Linked DNA regions of Homo sapiens. The protein of the gene in region 1 purifies or fractionates together with the protein of each later gene. This does not show direct contact. Each region holds a gene or a part of one and is shown in the gene's direction. Other genes may lie near its edges. The genes, in order: GLTP, ASPSCR1, QKI and SHKBP1.

The links.
Region 2: the proteins of GLTP (region 1) and ASPSCR1 purify together in Homo sapiens (affinity purification with mass spectrometry; 2 studies listed by BioGRID and IntAct, with this or other methods). This does not show direct contact.
Region 3: the proteins of GLTP (region 1) and QKI purify together in Homo sapiens (co-immunoprecipitation; one large-scale study listed by IntAct). This does not show direct contact.
Region 4: the proteins of GLTP (region 1) and SHKBP1 purify together in Homo sapiens (affinity purification with mass spectrometry; 2 studies listed by BioGRID and IntAct, with this or other methods). This does not show direct contact.

What each region holds. Positions count from the first base shown.
Region 1 is NC_000012.12:109,869,971-109,875,293, reverse strand, and holds part of GLTP (glycolipid transfer protein), read left to right. Parts: intron 1-5,323. UniProt on the Homo sapiens protein: Accelerates the intermembrane transfer of various glycolipids. Catalyzes the transfer of various glycosphingolipids between membranes but does not catalyze the transfer of phospholipids. May be involved in the intracellular translocation of glucosylceramides.
Region 2 is NC_000017.11:81,983,173-81,988,495, forward strand, and holds part of ASPSCR1 (tether containing UBX domain for GLUT4), read left to right. Parts: intron 1-381; coding exon 382-496; intron 497-2,334; coding exon 2,335-2,435; intron 2,436-5,323. UniProt on the Homo sapiens protein: Tethering protein that sequesters GLUT4-containing vesicles in the cytoplasm in the absence of insulin. Modulates the amount of GLUT4 that is available at the cell surface. Enhances VCP methylation catalyzed by VCPKMT.
Region 3 is NC_000006.12:163,559,395-163,564,717, forward strand, and holds part of QKI (KH domain-containing RNA-binding protein QKI), read left to right. Parts: intron 1-2,587; coding exon 2,588-2,675; intron 2,676-4,025; coding exon 4,026-4,325; coding exon of another isoform or gene 4,326-4,351; exon of another isoform or gene 4,352-5,272; coding exon of another isoform or gene 5,273-5,316; exon of another isoform or gene 5,317-5,323. UniProt on the Homo sapiens protein: RNA reader protein, which recognizes and binds specific RNAs, thereby regulating RNA metabolic processes, such as pre-mRNA splicing, circular RNA (circRNA) formation, mRNA export, mRNA stability and/or translation.
Region 4 is NC_000019.10:40,582,836-40,588,158, forward strand, and holds part of SHKBP1 (SH3KBP1-binding protein 1), read left to right. Parts: intron 1-562; coding exon 563-650; intron 651-765; coding exon 766-882; intron 883-3,908; coding exon of another isoform or gene 3,909-3,938; coding exon 3,939-4,109; intron 4,110-5,323.

The sequences.
Region 1 (5,323 bases):
TTTGGGTTCTACTTATCCTTAAGGAGTTACCTTATCCAGAATGTCTCTCCTAACTCTCTTAGACTCCCATGGACCCTATCATATTCTGTGACTCTGAGTTATTTCAATGTGTAACACTCGGTGCTAGTACTTTTCGCTGAATGACTGCTTTTCATTCCATTCTCATTCTTCTGGGTTCTTGTTGAAGATGCTGGGCCCTTCTCTCTCTTTCCAAATTAAAATAGATGAGTAGGCCAGGCATGGTGGCTCACTCCTGTAATCCCAACACTTTGGGAGGCTGAGGCGGGCAGATCACCTGAGGTCAGGAGTTGGAAACCAGCCTGACCAACATGGAGAAACTCCGTCTCTACTAAAAATACAAAAAAAATTGGTCGGGCATGTTAGCATTCTCCTGTAATCCCAACTACTCGGGAGGCTGAGGCAGAAGAATCCCTTGAACCTGGGAGGCGGAGGTTGCAGTGAGCTGAGATTGCACCACTGTACTTCAGCCTGGGCAGCAGAGTGAGACTCCGTCTCAAAATAAATCAACTAAACTAAACTAAAATAAGATACATGACTAAATTAAAATACATAACCCCCTCATAGCCTGTACTTGTGGCAGACATCATTAATCAATCATGATGCTGTTTTCCCCTTTGAGCCTAAACACAGCCTCGGCATCTTTATTAACACAGCCACTCCAGGTCAGTTAGAGTGCTGCATGAGATGATACCTATTTGCTCTCACTGTTTAGGGAGAGTCTAGAGATGGAAGAGCTGAAGGTAATGATTCTTCATTACCTCTCGGTTCTTGAGATCCAAATTCTGGGGTTGATTTTTCTTCATGCCTCTTACCTTAATTAAATGGATGTCTGTGGAATGTGGCCTTCTAGGTATCCGGCACGCATTAAATAGTCCTAGAGTGAACCCAGAAAGAGTGGTTTTCCATCACTTTTGGTTCAGTGCTTGTTCCATTTTGGGGGAGGGTGGCAGTGGCAGCCTAGAATCAGAGATTTATCTTGTTTTACAGCCAAAGAAACCGAGGCCAGAGAGGTTAGGTGACTTGCTCAGGGTCACACAGCCAGTGAGTGACCAGTAAAGCCAGACTAGAACTTGGGCCTCTGGACACCTTATGCACCAGACTAGAACTCAGTCCTCTGGACTCCTTATGTGGTGCTCTTGCTGTCATGCCTGCTGTCCTGGCTTTCTCTCTGGCAAAGGAGAAGACCCCCAGTGGAGCCAGCCTGGTTGGGTACTTGAGGAATTCCAGTGGTTCTGCTGGCACCATGGTGACTTGTCCACATGACAAGTGGTGTGGGTGCCACAGACCAGACATGCAGGTTTGCTCTGAGGTGTGTAACTCATAAACAGCCCGCCAAGCTGGTCCATAACTCCTGTTTATTTGAATGTAAATTAGAAAATGACTGGAGTGTTGAAATCGTCTTGTGGGAAAAGCCCCAAACAAGTTGGCTGGTTGTGTGTGTGTGTGTGTGTGTGTTTTGTTTAAGAGACAAGGTCTTGCTTCATCGCCCAGACTGGCATGCAGTGGGGTGATCACAGCTCACTGCAGCCTCCAGCTCCTGGGCTCAAGTGATCCTCCTGCCTCAGCCTCATAAGTAGTTGGGATTATAGGCGTGTGCCACGGCGCTCAACTCTTGCTTTTTTTTTTTTTTTTTTTTTTTGAGACAGAGTCTTGCTCTATTGCCCAGGCTGGAGTGCAGTGGCACGATCTCGGCTCACTGCAACCTCTGCGTCCTGGGTTCAAGTGATTCTCCTGGCTCAGCCTCCCCAGTAGCTGGGATTACAGATGTGCACCACCATGCCCGGCTAATTTTTTGTATTTTCACTAGAGACAGGGTTTCACCATGCTGGCTAGGCTGGTCTTGAACTCCTGACCTCATGATCCACCCACGTCAGCCTCCCAAAGTGCTGGGATTACAGGCGTGAGCTACCGCGCCCAGCCTCAGCTCTGGCTTTTCCTTCATCTGGGACATCAGGCTAACTGGGAACCAGCCCCACCTGTACCCCTTGATCTGTGAGTTAGAAGCTCCCCCACTGCAACAAGCATCCTCTGAGATTTGGGACCACCTACCACAGCCTTACAATATTTTCTGCTTTTTTTTTTTTAAATTTAAAGTTAATGCTAATACCTGTTTATTTTTGGTTTTGTATAGAACAGGGGTGTACAATTTTTTGGATTCCCAGGGCCACACTGGAAGAATTGTCTTGGGCCACACATGAAATACACTAACGCTAATGATAGCTGAGGAGCTAAAAACCAAAACAAAACAAAACAAAACTCAAATCTCATAATGTTTTAAGAAAGTTTATGAATTTGTATTGGGCCACATTCAAAGCGGTCCTGGGCCACATGCAGCCTGCGGTCTGCGGGTTGGACAAGGTTGGTGAAGAATATCCCAAGAAAGACAAGAAACTGTATTAACCCTCCTAATATAGCAGGTGAGTTATCATTTTGATTGACTGTTGAGAGCTGGATTCTAGTGGAATGTGATTTAGATTGTGTGCCTGGGAGGGACCCTGAGAAGATGAAACAAATAATGTCTTGTTGGAGGAAGAAGCCAGAGAGACACTTTCTGCAATGGCTGTACAATTTTGAAACTGCTGGCAGACTTCGGAGATGCATTTGCAAGTAGTAAGTGAGGCTTTTTTAGCCTTCAGGAACACCTGCTGTGTGCTGGTGCCGTGCTGGTGGGTCCCACTCTTGATCCCACCTGGCCAGAGAACAATCTGGAAGGAGGGCTATGGAGGGCCCTATTGTGTTTTTCTGTCCATGTGTGTAACAGCCCATGAGTCGGCTGTTTTTGAGGCTCAGAGGGGAGAAGTCACTTTGAGTCTGATTCTCTTCCTCTGACATCCATGCCCTGAACACCGTGGACAGATGAGTGGAAGGAAACACGGAGACTGGCATCCATCTGAGCCAGCCTGAGCTTGAGAGGCCCCGAGGTGGCTTCTTTTTGGCAGCTCCGTTTCCCAACAGCTGTGTGGCAAAAGGCCCACTTCCTAAAGGTCTAGGGCCATCCATCCTACCTTTGGAAAGATGTGGTGAGTCCAGGCAGGAGCACCAAAATCAATGCCTGACTTGGTGAATGACTGCCAGGGCACAGAGCCAGCTGCATGGCTGCTTAAGTCTGACAATTGCTCCAGCAGCCTCCTTTATAATGTCCAAAGGCCAGAGTACATACAGACCAGTGGCACCCGCCCACCCGGTCCTGGGATGGTGGTGATTAGATCTTTGTGTTCAGAAAAATCTGGCCCTTGAGGTCAGAGCCTGAGGTTTGGCCTCTCTGCTGCCAGAAGGACGAGGATTGAGTAGGAGGGGAGAGACTACAGTTGCTTGCTAACTCATCTTGCCCCTCCTCTGCTGCACAGGGATGCTTGGAGGGACAGCCCTCCACTGTGAATCCCTTGGGGCAGAAGTCAGGCCCTCCCAGGACCCACCAATGGGCTTCTGCAGCATGGGCGCCCAGCCTATATCCACGTGAAAAGGAATGGGAGGAATTCATGACAAAGGGCTTTATAAAATATAACGTATGACCGTGATCATAACTAGCATCATCTCTATTTTGAGTGGCTCCCAGGATATGCCATTGAATTAGGCAGTAACTCATTTCTAATCCTCATGATGAACTTAGGAGGAATTTGGCACCATTTTCCAGAAGAGGAAACCAATGTGCAGGGAGGTGAAGCGATTTGATCAGGTCATGAAGGTAGGAAGTGGTCCACAGGACTTTACAGCAGGTCTAGCCCTGTAACAGGGGAGACCAACACCACATCAGGAAACAGGAAGACGTTGGAAGTCGTCTCTAGGGCAGAAATGTCCCTTGTAGGGGAGGAGGGGAAATGATAGGAAGTTCCCGGCTGGCATGACAATGTGATTATTTCAATGAGCTTCTTAGAATGGAAATATTGGGGCCGGGCGCAGTGGCTCATGCCTGTAATCCCAACACTTTGGGGGGCCGAAGCGGGTAGATCACGAGGTCAGGAGTTTGAGACCAGCCTGGCCAACATGGTAAAACCCTGTCTCTACTAAAAATACAAAAAAAAATTGGCCAGGTGTGGTGGCGCAATCCTGTAATCCCAGCTACTCTGAAGGCTGAGGCAGGAGAATCGCTTGACCCAGGAGGCGGAGGTTACAGTGAGTCGAGATCACGCCACTACTCCAGCCTGGGACAGAGCGAGAGTCCGTCTCAGAAAAAAAAAAAAAAAAAAAAAAGAATGGAAATGTTGGGTCCTAGTCTTAGGTTTCATTGTTTCAGTAAAAACCTGCCAGAGTGAATGTTAACTCCTTTTATTACGTACTTACAGTGGTACTTATATGGAGGCCTTTTTTGTGGTTCTTGCTAGAGTGTTAACTGTATCTGAGCTTTTCAAAGTCATTGCAGTGGATCAGCCCTCTCCAGGGTCTTCTAGAAGCCTCTGCTTTCCACCCTGGCAGTTAGGCAGTCGACTCACACTTCCCCTGTGTTCAGAAATGATTCATTTTCTGCCTTGCTGTTCCTCCAAGTTCCTTACTTCACTCCCTTCTGAGATCTCTGTCTTAATGGTCTGGAATACATTTGAAGTCATTATTTTATGATGGGGAGATTTCTGCTAATTTTACCCCTAACAATCAATCAATGAGTCAATAATTCTTTTTCTCCCTCCTCCCTTCCTTCCTCTCCTTCTGCTTTGATTTCTTAATCATTGGAATAATTGTTTTCTGGATTTCCTCTCTAAAGAAAAGCTTTGTCTGTTGGGAAAGGTGATGATGATATAATTTATAATAATAAGCATAAATGATAATACCTTCTTTTTATTTTATTTTATTTTATTTTATTTTATTTTTGAGACAGAGTCTTGCTCTGTCACCAAGGCTGGAGTGCAGTGGCATGATCTCGGCTCACTGCAACCTCCACCCTCCCCCTAGGTTCAAGCAATTATCTTACCTCAGCCTCCCAAGTAGCTGGAATTATAGGCACACACCACCACACCCAGTTAATTTTTGTATTTTTAGTAGAGATGGGGTTTCACCATGTTGGCCAGGCTGGTCTTGAACTCCTGACCTCAGGTGATTTGTCCGCTACAGCCTCCCAAAGTGCTGGGATTACAGGCCTGAGCCATGGTGCCCAGCCTAATACCTTCTTTTTCACTGAGCACTTACTAGGTACCAGAAACTGTGCTTAGGCCTTTATTTATACAACTTTATTTAAGCCTCACAGCAACCCTTTGAAGAAGGGTCCATTATGAGCCTCATTTTAAAAATGAGGAAACTTGCCGAGTGCGGTGGCTCATGCCTGTAACCCCAGCACTTTGGGAGGCCCAGGCAGGCAGATCTCTTGAGGTCA
Region 2 (5,323 bases), on another chromosome or scaffold:
GTGACGGCCGGGGTCTGTGACACTCCAGCTTCCGCGAGTGCAGCAGTGTTCACGCCCCAGTCGTTCTCTCTGTGTTTTCCGAGCGTCTGCACTGGGGCTGTCAGCACCCCAGACTCTGAAGGAGCAGCCCCCTCGGCGTGCACCGAGGCCCACATCTCCCTTTTTCCTGCTCCCTTCTGCTTGCAGGAGGCCCCATATGATCGGGGACCCGCCTTGTGCCTCTGCAGGTCATGACGTCCCGCTGTTGGGGAGCTGCCACAGGACGTGGATGGCGGGGCGTGGATGGCGGGGCGTGGATGGTGGGACGGGGATGGCGGGGCGTGGATGGCAGGGCGTGTCAGGCTCTGCAGGGCAGCAAGTGTGCTCTGGTCTGTCTTGCAGGTTTCAGAGGAGCGTGCTCGACCTTTCTCTCCAGTGGAGATTTGCCAACCTGCCCAACAATGCCAAGCTGGAGATGGTGCCCGCTTCCCGGAGCCGTGAGGGGCCTGAGAACATGGTGGGTCGTGCTCTGGGGGAGGCTGACTGTGTGGGGCACAGGATCGTTCAGCTGGCCAGGGACGGGGGACGGGACAGTGGGGGGTGCTGGGGAAGGAGGGACATGAGTCTTAGCACCAGTTCTGCCTTCCCTGGGTTGGGCCCAAACAGCTTCCTGTTTTTTGATAACTGGCAACTGAAAATGAGCATCTCATGTTTTTTTTTTTTTGAGCTGGAGTCTCGCTCTGTCGCCCAGGCTGGAGCTCAGTGGCGCAGTCTCGGCTCACTTCAAGCTCCGCCTCCCGGGTTCACACCATTCTGCCTCAGCCTCCCGAGTAGCTAGGACTACAGGTGCCCGCCACCACACCCGGCTAATTTTTGTATTTTAGTAGAGGCAGGGTTTCACCATGTTGGCCTGCTGGTCTGGAACTGCTGACCTCATGATCTACCCGCCTCGGCCTCCCAAAGTCCTCCCAAAGGATTGCAGGCGTGAGCCTCTGCGCCCCGCCCACGTCATTCTTCATGTGGAAGTTTTTCTTTCTTTCTGGGGTCAGTTGTGCCTTCCCTGGCTCAGGGTGTCAGCAGCATTCACCCACCAGCCTGACCACCTGCTCATAGAATTGCCCAGAATGTTAGAGCCGAAAGCGCTGCATGGATGCCGCAAGGGCAGCCTGTAATCCCAGCACTTTAGGAGGCCGAGGCGGGCAGATCACCTGAGGTCAGGAGTTTGGGACCAGCCGGCCAACATAATGAAACCCCGTCTCTACTAAAAATACAAAAATTAGCCGTGGGTGGTGGCGGATGCCTGTAGTCCCAGCTACTCAGCAGGCTGAGGCAGGAGAATGGCGTGAACCCGGGAGGCGGAGCTTGCAGTGAGCCGAGATTGTGCTGCCACTGCACTCCAGCCTGGGCGACAGAGTGAGACTTTGTCTCAAAAAAAAAAAAAAGAGCAGCAAACATTTACCATCTCATGTGGCTTCTGAGGGTCAGGAATCTGGGAGCAGCTTAGCTCAGTGTCTGTCCTGAGGCTGCAGTCAGGTTCGGTGGAGCTGCAATCTTTTGAAGCCCCCACTGGGACACGAGGACTGTCTCCAACACAGTTCACTCCTGTGGCGCCTGCATGTACCCACACACACCCACACACACCCCCACACACCCACATACCCGCACACCCGTACACACCCCCACACACCCCTGCACACACCCCACACACACCTGCACACCCCCGCACACACACCCCCCACACACACCCACACACACCCCTACAGCAACGTGCACACACCCCCACACCCGCACACACCCGCACACACCCCACACACCTGCACACACCCACACACCTGCGTGCACACCCCCCCACACACCTGCACACACCGCCCACACCAACATGCACACACCTCCCCCCCACACACACCCACGCACACACCTGTACACACACACCTACACATCTGCGCACATACCCGCACACACCTGCATGTAAACATGCACACACACGCACATCTGCACGCACATGCGCACACCTGCACACACCCACACACCAACATGCACACATCCACACACATACCTGCACACAACTGCACACCCCCGCACACACCCACACACACATATGCACACACGCACGCACACCTGCACATACCTGCACACTCACATGCACACACGCATGCTGGTGCAGCCCTGCCGGGGAGCCTCCAAGGCCCTCACTCCAGAGTGAATAGGAGGGTAGCCTTCTCCGTGGGGGTCAGCCTCTCCCTGGAGGCCAGGGCGGGGCAGTCACCCTCTCTGTGTCTGGAGAATCAGTCTGGGATTTAGAAGGAATAGTTGCTTTTCTTCCTAAGGAAGTTTCTCATGTCTTATACCCTCCAGGTTCGCATCGCTTTGCAGCTGGACGATGGCTCGAGGTTGCAGGACTCTTTCTGTTCAGGCCAGACCCTCTGGGAGCTTCTCAGCCATTTTCCACAGATCAGGTGAGCATCAGTGGGCTGGGGGCTCTTCCCTACCCTGTTTGCTGGGGAAGCTGCTGTGGTTACTGGGTCTGGTTCAGAGCTGGACACCCAAGCTCTGTGCTGGCCTGTGGTGCCTCTTGGCACTTTGCAGTCCTTTGTAGAGGAGGGGTGTGTGGGCTGCCGGTTCATGAGCAGCAGCCTCGGGGATGGCTGGTCACAGCTCATCGTTCTGAGTTTCCTGGGCCCAGCGGCCCAGCCTTGCCCACCTAGAAGAGCAGGAATGTGCTTCTGTCCTTGTGGGGGCCTGGTGAGCACTAAGGGGAGACGTTCGGTGCTGGGGGCAGGGCTCCCCATGCTTGATTCCCCTGGATGGGATCATAAGGTCTCTTTTTTTTAAGAGGCAGGGTCTCACTATGTTGGTCACCTAGGCTGCTCTTGAACCCATGGGCTCAAGAAATTCTCCCATCTCAGCCTCCCAAAGCGTTGAGATTACAGGTGTGAGCTCCTGTGCCCCACCAGAAAATCTTCCTAATAGTAATTGGATGGCTGGGCACAGTGGCTGGGCACAGTGGCTGGGCAAAGTGGCTTGCACTTTGGAAGGCCGAGGCTGGCGAATCGCTTGAGCTCATGAGTTCAAGACTAGCCTCGGCAACATAGTGAAACCCCTTCTCTACAAAAAATAGAAATGTTAGGCCAGGCATAGTGCATGGTGGTGCGTGCCTGTGGTCCCAGCTATGCCAGAGGCTGAGGTGGGAGGATCACTTGAGCCGTGGAGGCAGTTGCAGTGAGCCGAGATCGCACTGCTGCACTCCAGCCTGGGCAACAGAACGAGACTCTGTCTCAAAAAAATAAATAAATAAAAATAAGTAATTGATGTGTATCAGTTTCTGTCGGTTAATGGTTTAAACGTTGTTCCTGAATGTGTAAAAATTGGTGCTTTGTCAATTTGGGTCTTTTCATCGTTGGCTGGAAGTCTCTGTCCACAGTAAAAGGCTCAGCAGAATGGAAGGGACTTGGGGCTGGGGTTTGCTGTGAGCCAGGGGGTTCTCGCCCTCCCCGGGCCTCAGTTTCCTCACCTGTGCCCCGGCTGGTGTGTGGATGGGGTGAGTTCATGTCTTGAGGACCGAGCATAGGGCCTGTGGGAAGGTGACCGCGCGTCGGGCGCTGGGAAGGTGACTGTGCGTTGGGCGCGCTTGGTGGCCCCAGGGCTGGGCCTGCTCCCGTCTGACAGTAGTGCCGCGCTGCATGGCACGGGTGTTGCGTTCGTGGGTGAGAGCGCTGAGGTCTGCACGTCGGGTCTCAGTGGTCATGGGGATGGAAGCCACCCCAGTGGCTGTCGGGGTGAATGGAGGCCCCTGGAGATGGCAGCGGGTTAAGCACGAGCACGGAATTCTCCCTCCCAAAACGGAACTCAGACAACAGTGACGGAGCCTAAGAGCAAAGCCAAAGCCACGGGCAGGGGTGAGCGGGACCCGAGGCAGGAGATGACGGAGCCTAAGAGCAAAGCGAAGCCACGGGCAGGGGTGAGCGGGACCCGAGGCAGGAGGTGACAGAGCCTAAGAGCAAAGCGAAGCCACGGGCAGGGGTGAGCGGGACCCGAGGCAGGAGATGACGGAGCCTGAGAGCAAAGCGAAGCCACGGGCAGGGGTGAGCGGGACCCGAGCCAGGAGTGGCGCCGGGCAGGGAGGCAGGCAGCCCCAGGCGCTGTGTGGGCACTGGGTGAGAAGCAGGGATCCCGGCGCCCTGGCTCTGTGCTGCTTCCTGAGACGAGAGTGGCAGAGGGCAAGAAGAAAACCAAACAGCGCGGGGAACAGAAGTCAGGAAAGATGAACGTCTGGAAGGAAATGCCCCTGGGCCGGGCGGTGCCCCCGGGCGTGAACAGAATCCAGTGCTCCCACAGGCACAGGTGCTTGGTGAGGGCCGTCCTCCCTGGCTGTGCTGTCAGTCCTCAGATGGGGATGGAGGTAAGGAAATGGCCCAGAGTGGCCTGGGGCTGCCACTGGGGAGGGGCCGAGGGTGTCTGGAGAGGTGGGGCCGGCATTGTGGTAGCATAAGCCTCTTCAACAGACTTTGTAAACCTCGTGTGAAACTTAGTTTAAGAAACAACAGGCTTGGCCAGGCGTGGTGGTTCTGGAAGTGGCTTTGGAGCTGGCTTTGGTGGTGGCTGTGGGGGTGGGTTTGGGCGCTTTGGAGGAGGTTGCAGTGAGCCGAGATCGCACCATTGCACTCTAGCCTGGGTGACAAGAGCAAAACTCCATCTCAAAAAAACAAAAAAACAAAAGAAACAACAAGGCTGGGCACGGTGGCTCACACCTGTAATCGCAGCACTTTGGGAGGCTGAGGCGGGTGGATCACGAGGTCAGGAGTTCGAGACCAGCCTGGCCAATATGGTGAAACTCCATCTCTACTAAAAATACAAAAATTAGCCGGGCGTGGTGGTGGGTTCCTGTAGTCCCAGCTACTCAGGAGGCTGAGGCAGAAGAATTGCTTGAACCCAGGAGGTGGAGGTTGCAGTGAGCCAAGATTGCACTCAGCCTGGGCAACAGAGCGAGACTCTGTCTCAAAAAAAAAAAAAAAAGAAACAACAGAAGTGGCTGGGCGTGATGGCTCACGCCTGTAATTCCAACCCTTTGGGAGGCCGAGGTGGGTGGATCACCTGAGGTCAGGAGTTCGAGACCAGCCTGGCCAACATGGTGAAAACCCATCTCTACTAAAAATACAAAAATTAGCTGGGCGCAATGGCTCATGCTTGTAGTCCCAGCTACTCAGGAGGCAGGAGAATCACTTGAACCCGGGAGGCGGAGGTTGTAGTGAGCTGAGATTGCGCCACTGCACTCCAGCCTGGGTGACAAAGCAGGACTCCGTCTCAAAAAAAAAAAAAAAAACAAGAGCAAGTGGGGCAGCTCTTT
Region 3 (5,323 bases), on another chromosome or scaffold:
TTTTGATAAGTTTTAATTTTCAAATGACTAGTTTTTAGCAAATAAGTTGAAGTTTTATTATAATGGATTTGATTCTTCTTTTCCAATAGTAGCTTACTTATTTCGTTTTTAACAAATAATTTCTGTGTCTTTCTAAGATCATACTTACTTTTTGTTCATCTTTGTACAAGTTGATAGGAGTCAAATTCTACAGGCATGCCAGTATCCACTCCCTGTAATCTTCTGCAAAGTAGGTTTTTAAAAAGTTGGCAGTAGCACATCAAAACATTGTCTTTATGTTTCACTCATATTTTTCTTTAATTCTTGTGATTTACTAAAAGCTCACTGAACAGTTCTGTTTACTATATATTATAGTATACCATTCACCATTGTAATGCCAAAAACAGAATTTTGTGTGTCATTACAGCTATAATAGAAAGGAGCACTGAGAAGCCTGTGTCCTGGTCGTCCTTCCCGTTTTATGAATCAGAGAGGAACAAGACTATGTCAGAAAATTGTTGCATTGTGTTACTTTCATTGTAAATATCACAAAGTCATGTAAAGTTACTGGGATTCGATGATACATAAAAGTGGGGGGCAGTTAGTTCTATCTCTACACAGACTTTGATAGATGGACCCTCATCTACTGCTTGCTTTGACTGTGGCTAAAGTTTATGTTGGACTGAGACATTTGGGATTTGGAAATAAAGTTAAAGACTTCTCATACCAGTCACTTATAAGTTCTAGTAAGTAACTTGGGGGTGGCCGTGGGAACATGGGGTTAGGCAGTGGTAACAAAGAAATAAGCCCTATTCTCATGGAGCTTACTTTGGGAGTGGTGATACTCAACAGACTGTAATTTGAAGTAGAAGCAATTAACTTTGTCGATAGGTTCTTGGAGATACAACTTTAAACAAAATGAGTATATTGCAGCCTCTTTTTTCATCAATGTTATAATGAAACCATGTTGAAAGCAGTGGCATTATTTGAGGACCTGCTGTCTGTCGTTTCACTTAAAGTTAGTTTTAAAGAATGTATTGACCACATTAAGTGAGGATCTACTGTAATCTAGGGATGGCCCCTGGAGAAGGAAGGTAGCATTTAGGTTGAAGTTTGTGGGGATGGGGATAGGTAGGATTTGGAAAGAGAGAGGGGCAGAGAGTGCGCAGGGGAGCACTTAGGATGGAGGAAGTGGGAATATGCACAGAGATGAATGGTGGAGAGCAATCTGGTTTGACTTAAGATGTTACTTACATACGTGTGTAAAGTAGTAGGTTAATGGGCTTAACTTGAGAGGATATTTTGGGACCAGATTATAGGCAACTAAAGTTTTTTATATTTTTAGATAGTAAGAAACCATGAAAGTGTTTTGAGACAGAATGTTGAGAAACATGATGAAAATTGTGATTTGGGCAATTAATCTGGCCTTTGTGTAGAGATTGATTGGAGAACAGACACCATTAGCAACATGTTTTAGTAGTTTGGGTGCTATGCCAAAAACAACTGGAACAGTAAATGGAAAGAGTGGGACCAATTCAAGGTAAATGGGGTGGCCAAACATTTTGATGATTAGAGACTATCCTGATTTAGGTTTGAAGCATGGTTATTATTAGTGCCCATTTTTGCTTTTAAAAGTTTTCTGCTTTGGACAATAAATCATATGGTGACCCTAAAGATAGATTGCTGTAGCATTGATAGCACTTGCTAATTAGATTGAAAGGAGACAGGGATGGTGGTGTAAGAGAGCAGAATATACGGTTTTTTAGAAGTTATTATTTCACTGAGTTTTCATATTTTGAAGAATTAAGCATAAAATTTCCTTACCTAAATTCTGTAATCAAATCTTGTATGTTTAAAATTATTTGTGTGCACATGTGCACGCGCGTGTGTGTATGTGTGTGTTTAACGAACACATTTGAGTTTTGGAATATTCAGCAAAATGATAGTTGCTGGCTGGGTGCAGTGGCTCACACTTGTAAACTTAGCACTTTGGGAGGCTGAAGCAGGAGGATCACTTGAAGCCAGGAGTTTGAGACCAGCCTGGGCTACAAAACGAGACCTTGTCTCTACAAAAAATAAAAAAAATTAGCCAGGCATGGTGGCGCGTGCCTCTAGTCGCAGCTACTTCGGAGGCTGAGGTAGGAGGATGGCTCGAACCTAGGAATTCAAGGTGGCTGTGAGCTAGGATCATGCCACAGCACTCCAGCCTGGGTAACAGAGCAAGACCCTGTATCTAAAAACAATAAAATTAATTAAAGTAATTTTAAAATGATAGATGCTGAAGAGAATATGTTATGTTTAGTCTTATCTCACATTTTCATTCATTTCTATTTAAAAGTAAAGCTTTTTAGGGGAACTTTAATAAATCGGTGTAACTGACAAAAAATTTACAAATACAATATGCTGTATATCAACATGCCTTTACTGAGAAAACAGAGAAAGCAGGCTCCATTATGTTAGCACCTTTTGGTTCTTGATCTTTTTTTCCCCTTATTAAAACAGGTGACTGTAGTCACATGATACTTACTTTAAGGCTTGTGTGTAGATATAGCTATTATATTTGTGGACAGTCTCAAATGCTTTCATCTCATGTGTTTTCCATGTATAGGCAGAAGGAGAAGACAGCCTGAAGAAGATGCAGCTGATGGAGCTTGCGATTCTGAATGGCACCTACAGAGATGCCAACATTAAATCACGTAAGAATGAGCTCTGAGGCCCAGGGTTACTGCTGTCTGCGTTGTTTTGTCTACAGACTTTTTTCCTTTTGGCAACACAATAATAGTTCATACAAAGTGAACAGTTGAAATAACTGTTCTGTCACTTGATATGGGGCTGACAGTCCTATTTTTAATGCTTTCATGAATTGAGGACACTCTTGATTTTATTTTATGTCAGCATGTTGAAGTTTTAGGTTGATAAACTTACATTATTTTAACAAAATCACAATCTCTAAATTCAAGTGTTTAAGAAATTTTCTGTTTGGTTAACTACAGATGTAGGGCTTGCAGCTTATCTTGTTAAATTTATGCAAAAGACAACATATTGAAAGCTTATTTTGAAAAAGTGAATTTGAAGTGTATCTGACTGAAATGACCCTCTGTTGAGTTCTGTCCTTTCACTTTGCTTGCATGTTTTCCCTCTAGTATTTTTCCCTGTTGATTTCATATGTGAGTTCACAGAGATCAGTGGGTGATAACTCTTTTTCCGTCCTATTTTTGTTTTTATGCGTATCTATGCATGTTTTTATAAGCCGTAAGAGGATAGCTTTTTTATGTTTAAAATGAAATAATGTGAAATTTATATTTTGAAACAATTTAAGATTCATACATGTCATTTATATGAACATACCATGTTTAAATTACTGATTATTTAAAACACATAGAATTTTTAAGTTCTAGCCAGATTTAGAAGATGTAGGCAACCTCTAGTGGGTTTAGAAGTAGTTACTTTACAAATTGTTGACATTAATTTACTCATGAAAATGTGAGTATATCATTAATAGGAATTTAGAAGTAGGGCTTTTTAAGATTTTCTGTGACGTTGGTTCCTAAAGATGCAGGAAATGTACATATATACCTAGTGGTTACTTGACTAAATGCAATAAAAATTATTCTTTCTTTACTTTGAAACTAAAGCTGTACTTTAGAAATATACCAAAACTGAGTTTCTGTGGACTCCGGTTACAAATTATTTTTTAACATCTGTTAATGCAAGTGTTTCATTGTGCTTCTGCATGTACTTTAGTCTTATGAAATCTTAGATATATCAAATGTATGAACTAAATATAACCTATTTAATGGTGTCATTCATTTTTTTACAATGGCTTTTTAATTTTTGCACATTCTTAATCACATTGGGAAAGGGAAAGCTGTTTGCATTTGATTGGTGTGCTTTTGCATTTTTGTGTGATCAGCGCATGTACTAATGATTTCCTTTTATTTTTCTTCTTTCCTGCTTTTCCTTTCTTTTTCCTACTCCCTTCTCATTTTTCCGTATTTTATACTGCTGTCTCTATACTTCTTTCTAAATTTCTTTGCTTACTGTAGCAGCCCTTGCCTTTTCTCTTGCAGCAACAGCCCAGGCTGCTCCAAGGATCATTACTGGGCCTGCGCCGGTTCTCCCACCAGCTGCCCTGCGTACTCCTACGCCAGCTGGCCCTACCATAATGCCTTTGATCAGACAAATACAGACCGCTGTCATGCCAAACGGAACTCCTCACCCAACTGCTGCAATAGTTCCTCCAGGGCCCGAAGCTGGTTTAATCTATACACCCTATGAGTACCCCTACACATTGGCACCAGCTACATCAATCCTTGAGTATCCTATTGAACCTAGTGGTGTATTAGGTAAGTTCTTCTCCCCATGGGGTTAACAACATTCTCTTTATAAATATTTTTGCTCCCTCAGATTTTGAAATGATTTTATCAGTTTTAGAGAGGCAAGACAAGTTTGCATTAGGGAAGACCGAAAACTAAATTTTGTTTTATTTCAGCCTCTCATAAGGGTTCCCCTTTGAAATAATTGCACCTTAAATTTATTCAGATCCACTTTGGTAACTGAGGTTCAGTTTGGTTGGGTAAATCTGTTGTGTACATTTCAACAAATACTTTTACATTTGACATTACTGAGGTCATTCTGAGTTTTAGGTCCCACCCCATTGGCCCGTCACCTCCATCAGCTCCACTTCTCAAACTTTATTTGAGATTTATTTTATCTCACAGGTTTGTGTAATTGTTGGAAAATTTTTAAACTTCTAAGTGAAAGTAGTCTGAGCGCTTTATAAAATTCATATTATTGTGTGTGTTTTGTAATATTTGCGATCACTTAAAATATCAGATAAATACAGTCATGCATCGCTTAACAACGGGGATACAGTCTAAGAATTGCCTTGTCTGGCAGTTTCATCATTTGGTGTACATCATAGAGTGTACTTACACAGACATAGATGATATCGTTTACTACACACCTAGGCTGTGTGGTATAGCCATTATAATCTTATGGGACCACATAGTATAAGTGGTCCGTTGTTGACCAAAATGTTGTTATGCAGGCATGACTGTAGTTGTATTCTTAAGATTTTTCAGTTCTTGTGTTTTGGAGTCCTAGTCATATTAAACATGAGAGATACTCTTAATTTCAGTAGTACAGTATGGAATAGTTAAATAAATAGCAAATCACTGAATTCAGAATCTCACTTAAGGCAGAAATTAAAATCATAATATAAACGCTTGGTTTTACATGAACAAAAAGTGGTGTGCTCGAAAAAGACATTACTGATGCCTTTTTTTTATAGAGTGGATTGAAATGCCAGTCATGCCTGATATTTCAGCCCATTGACTTGCTG
Region 4 (5,323 bases), on another chromosome or scaffold:
GGGAGAAAGACAGACAGAGGCAGAGAAAGAGACAGAGAGGCAGAAAACCAGGCAAATAGAAATAGAAAATCAGAAAGAGGTGACAGAGAAGGGTAGACAGAGTCAAACCAGACTGAACCACTGTGGCAGATGGGGGAACTCAGAGAGATAAATGGAGATGAATTAGAGTCATGTCAGAAGTACATAGTGGAGGCCGGGTGCAGTGACTCCCGCCCGTAATCCCAGCACTTTGGGAGGCCGAGGCAAGAGGATGGCTTGAGCCCAGGAGTTTGACGCCAGCCTGGGAAACATAATAAGACTCTGTCTCTACAAAAAATTTAAAAAATTAAAACTTTAAAAAGTACAGAGTCCAGGAGAGGCCAAGAGTCAGACAGACAGATGCATCAAAGGGAGGAAGGGAGGGAACAAGACAGGGACAAAGGCAGGCCTGGGGTGGACGGGGCTGGGGAGCAGTGGGTGGGTTCTGGAGGTGGAGGAGAGGGCCCATCCTCTGTGAGGGGTCACCACGGAAGGAAAGGAATGGAAGGGCTCCCGGCTGCAGCCTGTCCTGCCCCACCCCCAGGTCCAGGAGGTGCAGCCCATCACCAGTTATGACGCGGCAGGCTCCTTCCTCCTCCTGGGCTGCAACAACGGCTCCATTTACTACGTGGGTGAGCAGCAGCCTGTGTCCCGGGTGCCCGAGACCCTCCCCTGGGAGAGGGGAAGGGAGGGAGAGAGGCTGGGGCACTTGGAACAAACCCGCTCCACCCTCCCTGCCCACCCCAGATGTGCAGAAGTTCCCCTTGCGCATGAAAGACAACGACCTCCTTGTCAGCGAGCTCTATCGGGACCCAGCGGAGGATGGGGTCACCGCCCTCAGTGTCTACCTCACCCCCAAGACCAGTAAGCTATGACCCGGCTTCCCCTGCTGCTGTCACCTGCCAGCCCCAGCCCCAGCCTGCAGCTGTCCCCCAACTTGTGTAGCATGACCCAGAGGGGTTTATCGAGGGGCGGCAGATTCAACTCTCTCTCATTTTTTTTTCTGAGACAGACTCTCATTCTGTTGCCCAGGCTGGAGTGCAGTGGTGCAATCTTGGCTCACTGCAACCTCCACCTCCTGAGTTCAAGCGATTCTCCTGCCTCAGCCTCCCAAGTAGCTAGGATTACAGGCGCCCACTGCCACGCCTGGCTAATTTTTGTAGTTTTAGTAGAGATGGGGTTTCACCATGTTGGCCAGGCTGGTCTTGAACTCCTGACCTCAGATGATCCTCCCGCCTCAGCCCCCCAAAGTACTGGGATTACAGACGTGAGCCACCGCGCCCAGCCAGATTCAACTCTCATCCAGTCATTCAACAAATATTTACTGAGTATCCCTGTATATAAGCACGTTCTAGGTGCTAGATGGTGGCCACCCTCTCCACTAGGGGCAGAATGGACCATTAGGAGTTAATCTTTGTGTTTCTTTCCCACCTTTGTGATTAAGGCATGATGTTCACATGTTCATAAAACAACACAGATGCAGGTTTTACAGCAGATGAACCTGAGTTCTCTTACTTGAGACAGTTTTTTGTTTTGTTTTCTTGACATCAAATGCAGAATGGGTTAATTTTTGAGACGTAATTCTCATACCATAAAATTTCCCATTTGAACGTGCACAATTCAGCGGATTTTAGTATATTCACAAGGTTGTACAACTATCACCATGAACAAATTCCAGAGTATGTTCATCACCCCCGTAAGAAACCCCCTGATCTTTAGCAGTAACTCCACATTTCTCACTTCTGATACCCTCTAGAAATCACTAATATGCTTTCTCTTTTTGTTTGAGACAAGGTCTCGCTCTGCTGCCCAGGCTGGAGTGCAGTGGCATGATCTCAGCTCACTGCAATCTCTGCCTCTTGGGTTCAAGCGATTCTCATGCCTCAGCTTCCTGAGTAGGGGAGGATTACAGGTGTGCATCACCATGCCTGGCTAATTTTTCTACTTTAAGTAGAGACTGGGTTACGCCACGTTGGCCAGGCTCAATATGCTTCCTATACCTATGGATTTGCCTGTTCTGGACAATTCCTGTAAATGGGATCATACATTATATGGTCTTTTGTGTCTGCATTTTTCACTTAGCATATTTTTTTAAATGGTTAGTGTTTTCTGGGTCTTAAGATATCCTTACCTATTCTAGGTTACAAAGATCTTCTCCTGAATTTCTTCTAGAAGATTTACAGTTTAGTTTTTACATGGAAGTCTGTTCTATCAGAAATTAAATTTTATGTATGGTGTGAAGCAGGGATTATTCTTTTTTAAAAAAAAATAGAGACAGGGTCTTGCTCTGTTGCCCAGGCTAGAGTGCAGTGGCATGATGTGAGTTCTCTGCCACCTCCGCCACTCGGGCTCAAGCGATTCTTCTACCTCAACCTCCTGAACAGCAGAACCACAGGCATGCATCACCACACCTGTCTAATTTTTGTATTTTTTTGTAGAGACAGGGTTTTGCCATGTTGCCCAGGCTACTCTTGAACTCCTGGGCTCAAGTGATCCTCACACTTTGGCCTCCAAAGTGCTGGAAATACAGACTTGAGTCACTGTGCTTGGCCATAGCTGCTGCTGCTGCTTTTCTTTTTTTTTTAAAGCAGAAATAAGTTAATAATACACCTAACTTCATGACACATTATCACCTTTCTTCTTTGTAAGGCCCTTTTCTTATTTCTTTTTTTTCTTTCTTTCTTTTTTTTTTTTTTTGTCTTTTCCTGAGACAGAGTATCGCTCTGTCATTCAACCCAGGCTGGAGTGCAATGGCGCAATCTCAGCTCACTACAACCTCTGCCTCCTGGGTTCAAGCAATTCTCCAGACTCAGCCTCCCAAGTAGCTGGGATTACGGGTGCCTGCCACCATGCCCAGCTAATTTTTGTGTTTTTAGTAGAGGCAGGGTTTTGCCACGTTGGCTAAGCAAGTTTTGAACTCCTGGGATTCTCCTCTCGTCGTCTCCCAAAGTGCTGGAATTACAGGCATGGGCTGCTGCACCCGGCCTCTTTCTTATTTCACTTACTTACTCATTTCCTCCTCATCTCCCTTCCCGCCACATGCCACTATTATGTCATTTTTCTTTGTTTTTTGAGACAGTCTCGCTTCGTCACCTAGGCTGGAGTGCAGTGGCGCAATCATAGCTCACTGCAGCCTCACCCCCTGGGCTCAAGTGATCCTCCTACTTCAGCCTCTTGAGTAGCTGGGATCATAGGTGAATGCCATCACACCCAACTAGTTTTTTAAAAATCTTTTGTAGAGATGAGGGTCTCACTATGTTGCCCAGGCTGGCCTCAAACGCCTGGCCTCAAGCAATCTTCCTGCCTCGGCCTCTGTTCTCTGTTTTACTTTCTCTTTCCTCTCTTATTTGCTGTTTCACTGTTACAATTTCTGTCTCTGGGCCTCTCCTCCTTTGACCTGTGCCTTTGTCTCCCTGTTCCTCCATTTCCCACATCTCATCACCATCTTTTTGTGTCCTTCCCTCTCTCCTTGCTTTCTGACTGTGTCTCTGTTCTGTGTCTCTTTCTTTCTTTCTTTCTTTTTTTTTTTTTGAGACAGAGTCACATTCTGTCATGCAGGCTGGAGTGCAGTGGCGTGGTCTTGGCTCATTGCAACCTCTGCCTCCTGGGTTCAAGCAATTCTCATGCCTCAGCCTTCTGAGTAGCTGGGATTACAGGTGCGTACTACCACCACCAGCTAATTTTTGTATTTTTACTAGAGACAGGGTTTCAGCACGTTGGCCAGGCTGGTCTTGAACGCCTGACCTCAAGCGATCCACCCGCCTCAGCTTCCCAAAGTGATGGGATTACGGCGTGAGCCACCGTGCCCGGCCTCTCCTTGCTTTCTGACTGTGTCTCTGTTCTGTGCCTGTTTCTTTCTCCCTGCCCTGGTTTCTGTCTCTGTGGCCCAGGCCCTCTCCTCATCCTTGGCCCCTCACCAGGTGACAGTGGGAACTGGATCGAGATCGCCTATGGCACCAGCTCAGGGGGCGTGCGGGTCATCGTGCAGCACCCGGAGACTGTGGGCTCGGGGCCTCAGCTCTTCCAGACCTTCACTGTGCACCGCAGCCCTGTCACCAAGATCATGCTGTCGGAGAAGCACCTCATCTCAGGTGAGCCTCTGTGGGGTGCTCCAGTGCTGGGAGAGACAGCTCAGATGGGAGTGTGGAGACAGGAGGATGAGAATTTCCACTGGGGAGGGACATTGTGTAGGAAGAGAGCTCTGGCGGAGAGGATTGACCTGGGATGGGACTGTAATTGCAGAAGTGAGAGAATACCATAGGGGATCAGTCTGGGGAAGAGTGAATCTGTGTGTGTTTGGGAATCCATCAATTCAGCAACGATTTACGGGGCACCCACCATGTGCCAGGCATAGGGGATACAGTGATGAACAAGACAGGCCAAGTCCCTGCCCTCGTGGAGCTGACATTCTAGCAGCGATGGCAGACAATAAATCTATAAAAATGGACATCAATGGCCAGCTGCGGTGGCTCACACCTATAATCCCAGAACTTTGGGAGGCCAAGGCGGGTAGATTACTTGAGGTCAGGAGTTCGAGACCAGCCTGGCCAACATGGTGAAACCCCACCTCTACCAAAAATATAAAAAATTAGCCAGGTGTGGTGGCACGTGCCTGTAATCCCCGCTACTCGGGAGGCCGAGGGAGGAGAATTGCTTGAACCTGGGAGGCGGAGATTGCAGAGAGCCCAGATCATGCTACTGCACTCCAGCCTAGGCAACAGAGCGAGACTCCATCTCAAAAATAAATAGATAAAAATGCAAATCAGGCTGGGCACTGTGGCTCATGCCTATAATCCCAGCACTTTGGGAGGCCAAGGTGGGAGGATTGCTTGAGGCTAGGAGTGTGAGACCAACCTGGACAACAAAGTGAGACATTGTTTCTACAAAAAATTTTTAAAAAATTAGCCAAGTATGGTGGCATGCACCTGGGGTCCCAGCTTCTTGGGAGGCTGAGGTGGAGGGATCACTTGAGCCCAAGAGTCAGGGGCTGCAATCAGCTATGATTGCACCCCTGCACTCCAGCCCAGGCAACAAAGCAAGACTCTATCTCATAAAATATTAATAAAATAATCTAAATCAACACCAGGCAATGATAAGGGCTATGAATAAACATGAAGCTGTGTGTGGCTAGAGAGTGTCAAGTCGCTGGAGAGGGGTCATTCAGGGAAGGCCTGAGGAAGGACCTTTGAGCAGAAATAACAGAATGAGCAGTGCAGATTGGTAGGGACAAGCATTCAGGCCGAGGGAACAGGCATTGCAAAGGCTCTGAGGTGAGAGGATGCCTGAGGAAGTGCAGGGAGCCACT